Regions from separate parts of the Homo sapiens genome. Here region 1 is linked to region 2. Evidence: fine-mapped QTL for protein levels in blood plasma. A gene starts in region 2. The other region holds a variant in brackets. All regions are shown on one strand. Distances are from middle to middle.

What was found. PIP is the chance, under the fine-mapping model, that this variant and not a neighbour inherited with it causes the effect. The UK Biobank Pharma Proteomics Project read protein levels with antibody pairs (Olink). The fine-mapping took linkage between variants from a reference panel, not from the people measured, so its PIPs are less certain.
Region 1: its variant is fine-mapped to the plasma level of the CLEC4D protein (UK Biobank, PIP above 0.99).

The regions. Positions count from the first base shown.
Region 1 is chr12:8,537,127-8,542,499 of GRCh38, forward strand. It overlaps CLEC4E (C-type lectin domain family 4 member E), which reads right to left and starts at 3,779. Exons shown (of 6, transcript NM_014358.4): 1 at 3,635-3,779; 2 at 2,729-2,821; 3 at 2,091-2,180; 4 at 1-140. The coding sequence starts at 3,671. The variant G/T (reference allele first, on the strand shown) is at 3,799.
Region 2 is chr12:8,510,166-8,515,548 of GRCh38, forward strand. CLEC4D (C-type lectin domain family 4 member D) reads left to right here and starts at 3,338. Exons shown (of 6, transcript NM_080387.5): 1 at 3,338-3,595; 2 at 5,071-5,163. The coding sequence starts at 3,568. It also overlaps the pseudogene SUPT4H1P2.

The sequences.
Region 1 (5,373 bases), 27 kb after region 2:
TGAGTTGATAACCACCAGGTGAGCCCCCATGGCTGAGCAGTTCTTTAAACTTAACGCCCAGGAAATGGTGTCAGTAGAAAAGAAGTAGCAGCTGGATTGAAAATATTCCCAGTTCAATGGACAACAATTCTTGACTGAACCTAGGATGAGAGATGTTTCAGTGAGTGTCCCAGGTGAACCGAATAAGAAAACCCAAAGCTTCATCTGGCCCCATGGAGTCCTCATTTAAGTCAGAAGCCTTGGAATCACTTGTTCATACCCTACATCTTAGTATCTAAGACTTTAGATAATTCCAATGTCAAGAAACATAAACAGAATGTTTTTGGTCTTTTGAACGTAATTCTCATTCTCTGGATGTCAGTGCCAGGAAATGCAACTATATATGCAAACTATCTTAGTTATGCTATTGATATAGAACCTTATTATCTGTTCTTAGACTACTAATGTCAGAGAAATTTATGCATTTTATTTGGGTGACCCCCAAAGAGCCATCTCTTATGTTACCTAAACAATGTATCCTCAATCAAATCTCCATACTGTAGTATATAGATGGGTTAGATGTGGGCGGCAAGCCACCCAGGCGCTGAGGCAAGAGACAGAGGACACGAGCTGTTCCAGTATAATAAAATATAAAACAAGAATAGTTATACCAGATATAGATCTTAGATATGATTATATATGAATATCATTAATCATTAGTTTGTAGCAATTACTTTTTATTCCAATATTATAATAATCCTCGCTCTATAATCATAGCCAAGGAAAAACCAGGCCGTACAGAGCTACGAGCTGAGGGGACATAGTGAGGTGTGACCAGAAGACAAGAGTGCGAGCCTTCCGTTATGCCCGGACAGGGCCACCAGAGGGCTCCTTGGTCTAGCGGTGACGCCAGCGTCTGGGAAGACGCCCGTGGCCAGGCAGACAGACTGTGGTCTAGCGGTAGCGTTAAGTGTCAAGGGAAAACACCCGCTACTTAGCAGACAGGAAAAGGGAGTCTTCCTTTCCCTGGGGGAGTTTAGAGAAGACTCTGCTCCTCCACCTCTTGTGGAGGGCCTGACATTAGTCAGGCTTGCCCGCAGTTATCCGGAGGCCTAACCGTCTCCCTGTGATGCTGTGCTTCAGTGGTCACACTCCTAGTCTGCCTTCATGTTCCATCCTGTACACCTGGCTCTGCCTTCTAGATAGCAGTAGTAAATTAGCGAAAGTACTAATAGTCCCTGATATGCAGAAATAATAGCGTAAGCTGTCTTTCTCTCTGTCTCCTCTCCCTCTCTGCCTCGGCTGCCAGGCAGGGAAGGTCCCCCTGTCCAGTGGACACGTGACCCACATGACCTTACCTATCATTGGAGATGACTCACACTCTCTACCCTGCCCCTTTCACCTTGTATCCAATAAATAACAGCGCAGCCAGACATTCGGAGCCACTACCGGTCTCCGCGCATTGGTGGTAGTGGTCCCTTGGGCCCAGCTGCCTTTTCTTTTATCTCTTTGTCTTGTGTCTTTATTTCTACATGCTCTCGTCTCTGGACACAGGGAGAGACCCACCAACCCTGTGGGGCTGGTCCCTACAGTTAGATTTCTTAGAATTACAGAACTTTTGCCTTTGAGGTCTATTATAAATAATTCTTCTAACTTCTCTCAATTTAATGGTGAGAAAATTATAGCTCAGAGAAGGAAGTCACTTTTTTAGTGTCATGTAGCATTTTGCTAGGACTTGCAACAGGATGACATAGAAGAGCATAGAGAGTATATTTGTGAGATATTTATAAATTCTCTACTCCATACGTTTTTTCTCCATCTCATTTTGGAAGTAGGTGAATGAAAAAAAAGGTACACTCCTGGGAATAATACCTTCCACTTCCAGATTTACTGTTCAGACATACCCCTCAAATTTATTCTAAAAGTTTACTATAATGTCCCCAAGACTTTCTGCCCCAATGCTAATTGCATCACCAAATTTCTAGGATTTTACATTTTGCTTTTGAAAAATAAGACCTAATCCAGCTATATCTCACCTGTCCCAAAGTCAATCTAGAAGCCAGAAAATGTTGCTTTGTAAATTTTGATGTTCACCTTTGGGACTATTATACCTGATCCATAATTGTAGCAGGAGAGCTCTGTGAAATTCTCAGGTAGCTGAAACTTTTTCTCATCACAGGTTTGAAAGATGCGAAATGTCACTGTAAAAGAAAGGGCATAATGTTTGTTAGTCTTATTTCGGTTAAAAATGTCAGTTCCCTCAGTTTTGTATTTATAACAAAAGTGCCAATAATTATCATGTTTTTTCTTACAATCTGCTTTTTCTTACGACCCAGAGAAAATAGATATGTTTGCACTACCTCTTATGCCAAGTCCAACTCTCTCTACCCTTCCTTCCAAAAGTAATTAGTCATATCTCTGGTGCCGACCAGTAGTTCAAGCTCTAAGGCAGACTCTCCTAGAGAAGGTTACACTAATGATAGAGGCTGAAAGAGGAGGATTCAGGACTGCCAAGGAAGTGAAAAATGTCTATCATGAAAAGTAAGTCACAGGTGATTAAAATTCAGAAACAGTTCCCTGCTTGTTGAGGTTTCTGGTTTGAGAAATAACCTAGAGATTAATAGGGAAAAAAAAAAGGGTGAAATAGAAAGACCCTTTGAGGGCAAAGAGAGTCTACAGGCAGCATGGAAGAGTTTTCTCCTAATATGCACCAGGAAGAATTAAATTGAATTTGACCTTCAGAACCCACCAACACATCTGGTGATGAAACAGGCACTGAGAAATAGGATGGGGATCCCAGCAACAGTCCATAAGAACATTTGGGAAGAGAAGCATCCTCTCTCTGTAGAAAGAAAGACACAAACATGATCAATCTTCCCTAAGCAAGGTACAAAAGAGATAGAAGAGATTCTTATTCATCCTTACTTATTTCCTTCTACTTCCATTGTTTGTACTGAGTAATTCCCAAATTTCAGCATGCTTCAGAATCACTTGGAGGGTTTATGGAAACACAGATTGCTGACCCTTACCCCCAGAGTTAGCAACTCAGTAGAGTTTGTATGGAACCAACAAGTTCCCAGGGGCTACTGCTGCTGCTGGTCTGAGGACCACACGTTTAGCACCCCTGGAGTAAGACTCTGACTCATGAACTCAGATATACAATTTTTCCTTTCTAAGTCTCTCAGTTAAATTTTTTTCAGTATTTTCTAAGGCCCCCCTTCTTTCTTTTTCTTTCTTTTCCCTTTTCTCGTCTTTGCTTTTCTTGTCCTTCTCCTGATCTTTTTTTTTTTTCTGTGTCTCACTTTTCAAGCGCTTTGTAAATTAGGTAAAATGTTAACAGTCATCTAATAGTTCCTCTCTTCCTCCCATTAAACATTTTACAGACAAAGAGAGTTCCAGAGAAGTGAAGTGACTTGCCAAAAGGGACACAATGTATTGCAGAAAGGGTGGAAACTGATAGCTCTCCCTTAGCTAGAGGCCAGCAGGCTTTCTGGTATAAGAAATAGTCTTTAAATCTCTCTCTCTCTCTTCCTCTGTCCCCCCACTTTTTTTTTTAACTTCAGTGAATACTTTTCTATTGTCCTGTCTTTCACCATATTTATCACTTGTTCCAAAAAGAGATCTATGGAAGGAAAGGAAGAGTTGCAGATTTTACCTGTGCATTGTGTTTCAGATGATTTAGATGAATTCATTTTTTCTCTCTCTTTGGTTTTTTGTTTCTCTCTCTCTCTTTTTCTCTCCCTCCCTCTCTTTCTTTCTCCTCAGGAGTGTTTTGTTGGTAAGATTCAGGGAGAATGAATCTTGAAAGATAAACACTTT[G/T]TCTTTTAGGAAGTTCAGCTCCGATAGATGTAGAATATTAACTTGTTCTGTGGCTACGCATTAAGTCAGGATTTCCTTTCTTGCATAAGGAGGACAAGGAAGTTTATTGGACAGCATGTCAGTTCTCTTCACTCCATGTAACAACAAAATGAGGAAATTATGAAATGGTAAGCATCAACACAAATAGGCTAGCCATGGGGAAACAGGAGAGTTTTTTTTTTAAATGTTGTTTCGTTTCGTTGGACCAAATGTCTCTAGTTTCTTCAAGGCATAACTCATCCCCCAGTTTTTCCTTGACAATATGGAGCTCACCTCTGCACTCTGAATTTCACTTTGGATCTGTACCATCCACACATTTGGTAACTGAAAAGAAGACTTAGACAACATAGCACAAAGCTGGGCATATAGTGTATGTATTTAGGACATGGCAACCTGAATTTTTTCATCTTTTTTTTTTTTTTTTTTTTTGAGACAGAGTCTCGCTCTGTCGTCCAGGCTGGAGTGCAGTGGCATGATCTCCGCTCACTGCAAGCTCCGCCTCCCGGGTTCAAGCCATTCTCCTGCCTCAGCCTCCCGAGTAGCTGGGACTACAGGCGCTCGCCACCACGCCTGGCTAATTTTTTGTATTTTTAGCAGAGACGGGGTTTCACTGTGGTCGTCAGGATGGTTTCAATTTCCTGACCTCGTGATCCGCCCGCCTCAGCCTCCCAAAGTCCTGAGATTACAGGCGTGAGCCACCGCGCCCGTCCTCTTTTTCATCTTTTATGGTTTTTCTTTCTTCTTCATTTGCAGCTCTTGAATATTCTAATGTTGTGGATTTATGTCCCTCTTATCTTATGCTGACTACTAGGCTGCTACTACTAGGCTGACTACTAGAGTCCCCCTCAGCAGGACAGCCTCATGTGATTAGACCACTTTGAAACTCAGCTTAGTTTTTCACAACATAACGCAGCTTCTGAAGTCTCAGAGACCCAGCAGGCAGTTTAATTCTCCTGTTCTCAATTATTTGGGGATTTTAGTTCTATGTTACAGCCTACAGTAGGAGAAATGTATTTGAAGGTCAGAAAAAGCAATTTCAATTAGATATTAGAATTTAATGGTTCTCTGGGCCGGGAGCAGTGGCTCATGCCTGTAATTCCAACACTTTGGGAGGCCAAGGTGGGTGGATCATTTGAGGTCAGGAGTTTGAGACCAGCCTGGCCAACATGGTGAAACCCCACCTCTACTAAAAATACAAAAATTAGCCAAGTGTGGTGGCACGCATCTGTAATTCCAGATACTTGAGAGGCTGAGACAGGAGAATAGCTTGATCCTGGGAGGCAGAGGTTGCAGTGAGCCAAAATTGCACCACTGCACTCCAGCCTGGGCGATAGAGTGAGACTCTGTCTCAAAAAAAAAAAAAAAAAAGAATTAATGCTTCTCTGGAAGAATAGTTAGATATGTGCCTTCTCCTTACTTAAAGATACTTAAGAATAAGATCACACTGGTCTCAGTTTATTTAAGTTCACGAGTCAGGAGGCATAAGTATGATGTACATGACTTGGTAAATCCCCACATCCAGTGACTCACGAATTT
Region 2 (5,383 bases):
TCTATTTTTTTCCTGTTCTAAGCAGGATTTATGTATTCTCTAGGAGTCCCAGGTCCTTTTGATAGAAATAAATATTACTTTAACCAAAAATCTAGTTTCCAGGGTTGCATATCCGAGTTTGTGGGTTAGTGCTATTGTTGCTATTGGAATACTTCTTGTAGTGACTGGCGGTGCCGGAAAATATATGGATTGCCAAATCTATAATTTTACCTCCTCCCATCCCCAATTTAACATAGTAAAGTAATATTTCACTGAAGATCACAGAATATATATACACACATATCATTAAAGTAATATTGTAGCTTAGGGAAGAGTTCAGGGAAAGGGCTATATTCTGGAAATTGTAGAGATCTTTCTTAAAGGATCTCTAAGCTGTTATGTACTTGTCTTAGTGAGCTTGGGCCACTATAACAGAATACCATAGACCGGTGGTATGAAAGAGAGACATTTATTTCTCACCGTTCTAATAGCTGGAAGTCTCAGATCAGAGTGCCAGCATGGCAGAAGTGTGGGTCCCTAGGGACTGTCACTCATCATTTCCCCATTGTGGGGAGCCTCCCTTGGCTCCATGGCAATCCTGGATGGGCAGCTGCTCTGTGTCGCTCTTCTTTGCTCTCTGTAGGTTATGTGGCTTCTGTGATGAATCCCAAAGTGTCCTCCTTCAGGTCATGTAAATTTGTTCTTGGAGTCCTGTCAAATTAACCACTTTACCAGTGAGGGCTTTCTACTAGCCTTGCAGATGACTGCCTTCTGGAGAACTCATCTCTCTTTTTTTTTCCTCTCTCTCTCTTTTTTTAAATTTTTTTTTAAATTTTTTTATTATACTTTAAGTTCTAGGGTACATGTGCACAACGTGCAGGTTTGTTACATATGTATACATGTGACATGTTGGTGTGCTGCACCCATTAACTCCTCATTCTCCCAGTGCTATCTCTCCTCCCTCCCCCCACCCCACAACAGGCCCCGGTGTGTGATGTTCCCCTTCCTGTGTCCAAGTGTTCTCACTGTTCAATTCCCACCTATGAGTGAGAACATGTGGTGTTTGGTTTTCTGTCCTTGTGATAGTTTGCTGAGAATGATGGTTTCCAGCTTCATCCATGTCCCTACAAAGGACATGAACTCATCATTTTTTATGGCTGCATAATTTTCACATAGCTTCGTTTCTACAATCACAACATTCCTGAGGTAAACAGGCAAGGTGTAATCATTCTTTTTTTACAGAGGGAGAACAAGGAACTTAGGGAAATCAAAATGGGGACACTAACAGGATTTCTGTGGAAATTTAAGTAAATGAGAATTTGTAGTAAATTTTTTATCCTAAAACAAATAACTCACTTTGGCCGAAAAATGGGATGTTACCCAAGGTCCCCTACTGGGCCGGCGGAGAAAAGGACCTGCCTCCTACAGGGGCACAAACAAGGCAGACTAGGACCCAGCAGTCGGCCAAGGCCCAAGGGTCTCCAGTAAGGAAAATGTAAAATGTGAGTGTGTGAGACTGGCCTAAGATATAGGAAGAGCAGTAAAGAGAAGAAAACTGACGAGCAGAGGGGGAAAAGAATTATTAAACATGGTCAAGGAGCAAGGAGCACGACAAAGCCTCAGGATTTCTTCAAGGGATACTGCTGTGCCAGGTCTCAAGGGCAGAAGGATACAAGCACAAGACACCAGGGCCACCAAGCTGATGGGGTTACTGAGCCTCTGGACAGCACCTTCTGATAGGAAGCAAGGAAGCACACTACAAAGGCTGCAATCCTGGAGGCTGAGACAGTCAAGAGGGAGTGGAAGGGCCTCTGCTGCTCTGGGAAGGTATCTTATAGGGCAAATAAGCTCTTACTGTGTGCCTAAGAGAAAGGAAGAGGGAAGCGAGGCAGGTGTCATGGCCTTAAGAACTTTCTAGAGGTTTCTATTTATTGACATTTGACCTAGACCTCTTCATGAGCAAGGCGCAGCCTTGGGCTACAGGTAGGAAAGTCAGCATCCTACTCTCTCCTCAATTCCATCTGTTAATCCACCAACCCAAATCCCTCCCACCCCCACCTGAAGTCCAAATAAGGTAAAATGATAAAATGATGTGCTGTTCTCTCAACAGTTGGCTGAGTCTGAATTGGAGGGTAGGAAGCATTTGAAGCTCTGCCCATTTAGTTCCAGAACAAAAAATAAGCAGAGGCAGGAGGTGGAGAGCAAAGACGCTGGCAGCCCTGCGTCTGGTCTTTATAGCTGTGTCTTTGGATTTGTAGGCCACTCCTCAACTTTTCAGCTCCCGCACGATTCCTTAGGGCAAGCGACCAGTGGTTGACACCGCATATACACCTGGCTTAAAGTTATTGACTCGCTGCCAGTTGGAGACCCAGCTGTCCTCTGGACTCATCATCGCAATGATTCCATCAAAGGAGGAGCTGGTGCAGCCATATAGCATCTCTCAGTTACCCTTCATCTGTAGATATGCATCTCAATAGTCACAACCATCATATTCAAACTGGTCTATAGTACCTTGACCAGTGAACACAGCAAACAGGCCCACAGATGCCACAGGTCCTTCAGCACCGTCTCCAGGGCCATCTTCTCCAATGAGAAGAGCAACAGCAAGGAAGATGGCCACAGCCTGAGCACCCGCAGGAAGTAAACAGCTCGTTAGCCGGGTCTCTTCTTATAATTCCATCATGAGGACCCCATTCTCATGACCTCATATTAAACCTAATTACCTCCCAAACTTTTGACCTCCAAATGCCATTACGTTGGAGGGTAGTGCTTCCACCAATGAATTTTGAGGAGATACAGACATTCACTCCCTAACAGTGCTATAAATGAAGTCAGGGACCCTGATGGTGTCTTTATCACAGAATCTTACATTTTCTTTGTCTTTGCCTTAACACAACTCTTTTTGCTCACCTAGAAAGTTCTTGGGATTTAATTAACTGCTCTATCATCTCTTCCTCAACTCGAAAACAAAGGTTGCTGTGTCTTCACATGCCATGTACACACAAGGTATACTTTAAAAGTTTTTGTTCATTGTTCACATTGTCTTTTGCTCTCTTAGACTCAACTTTTTATTCAGTCCAGAGAACTTTTTAGTATAGAACTCACCCCAAGAATATAACTGCCTTTGAAAATATAATATTCACAAAAAGAATTTAAAAAGAGGGGACATTTACTAAATTTTTATTGGGCATAACAATTATTTCTTTTAGGGCGTTGCTAAATTTTTTGTCTAAATGAAAAAAAAAACAAATTGAGAAATTCCACATTTCACACTGATCTAGTGATCTCAACATACTTGTGGGTTTCTACTAACTGTTGTTTGGTATTGCTTTCTCAATTTCCTTTTTTTTTTTTTTTCGCCTCATCTCCCGGAATGTATCAAAGGAAACCCCTGTCTTTGAAAAAGACTTCTTTTGAGCTAACTTTCTTATACTGGTACCTTTCTAATCTCACTACAATATGTAACATTGGTGTTCGATCTCAAGTATTTCTGAATATATTCCCCTATCCACAGAAATATACTCTGGGGGAAAAAAAATAGAACAAATTCTTGCCGTCCTGACCATTGAACAAGAGACTAATTAGACAATGGGGCTAGAAAAACCTCAAAGTAAACGTGAGTACTTTCTCTCCTTTCCATTTCAAAGAAGCAGATGGAATTATACTAATTTAAAACATATGAATTGATGGTAGTTTTAAAGATTGTTGATGATGACGGGGAGAAGGAGGTGGAAGGAAATAAAAATGACGTTGGTGAAGAGGAAGGACATAGAGTCAAATAAGTTGGATAACAGAAACTTCTTTATAAAATGTATATTGGACCAAGAGGGGAGATAAAATATATAAAAGAGAAATAAGATGAAAAGAAAGAGAGTAATATGAGAAGATTCTTTTAAAGAAAAAAGAGAAAAGGAAGATGTAGAAAAAGCATTTAGGCTTATGCTGTATCAGAGGCTCTAACTGTCCCATTTTATGTTTGACTTAAGTGACACCAGTGGATTTGTATTGTGATAATATTAAATAATATTTTTGATAGATATATAGAACAAGTGTGGAAATGTTTAAATTAAAATTAAAGTTTTACTTTATCTCATCACCCTACCATGGCAAACTGTAATCACAGTGTGATCCTATTGAATTACCTTTTTAGGTAACAATATTTCTTAGAGATTTTTTGCATCAATATATACTGATTACATGCTTATTTAATTACTATACAGAATATCATTGTGTGAAGGGACCATAATTTAGAATTTCCACTATTGATAATATACATGTAAATATTAGATTACAGTATGTGTTTTCTATTTTGAGAAGTACTGCAATGAATATCTTTTAACATAAACAAGCTCAATTATTTCTATAGAATAGACACCTGTAATTGAAATTATTGTGGCAAATGAAATGCATTTAAAAATGGATAAATGCCACTAAATTGATCCTTCTAAAAGGCATTCCTAATTTTCCAGTCCAGGCAGCAGCATTTATTTTCTCACTAAGAGTGCTTATTTCCCCTCAGCCTTGCCAACACTGCATGTACTTAATTTACTTAAAAAATCTGATGTGTGAAAAGTTATACCACAATCTTTTCGTTTACAGTTCCCTGATTGGGCATATTTTTGTTTGATTAGTGGCTATTTATAACTTCAGCAAATTAAAATTTCAGCAAATTTCCTGCTCAGAGTTTTGCTCAGTTTTCTAGTTGATTTTGAAATACTTTATCCAGTGCGGATATTAATATTATGAGAAGACTTTCCTTTCATACGTTCCTTGACTCTAACATTGCTTGTGTTATATAGAAGTTTTAATTTTTATGTACTCAAATTATCTATTCTAATGGCTCTTGGGTTTTGTATCTTACTTATAAAATTCTTTTCATTTCAAAATTACCAAGAAATTTTACATTTTTCTTTCTTATTTATTTATTCATCAATAAGCTCTAAAATTGATTTATTTGGAGAAAATATTTATGCTCTTCTCTAGATCTGAAATATTTGGTTTGCTGTCACTTTTAGATTGCTCCTTGGTAGAATTAGCTTTCCTAGCTTGTAGCTGAGAGGAGGTTAATCTCTATTTTTCTTTTGGTCCTAGTGGAAGGAGGCATGCATCCCCAGCTGATACCTTCGGTTATTGCTGTAGTTTTCATCTTACTTCTCAGTGTCTGTTTTATTGCAAGTTGTTTGGGTAAGTTATTAGCCAAAGTAGAACTCTTCTTGAATTATTATTTCCAAACAACTTTTCTGAAGTTGCTCTAAGCCTTTTGGTATCTTGATTTTTCCTAGCATAACCTATCTATAATATCTTCAGGGTCTTGCACTGAATATTCAGAGCTACATTCTTGACCTTCTGTCTTTCAATGGTGGTACCTTGTGATAGAGATTGATTGATGGAATTTAGACCATTT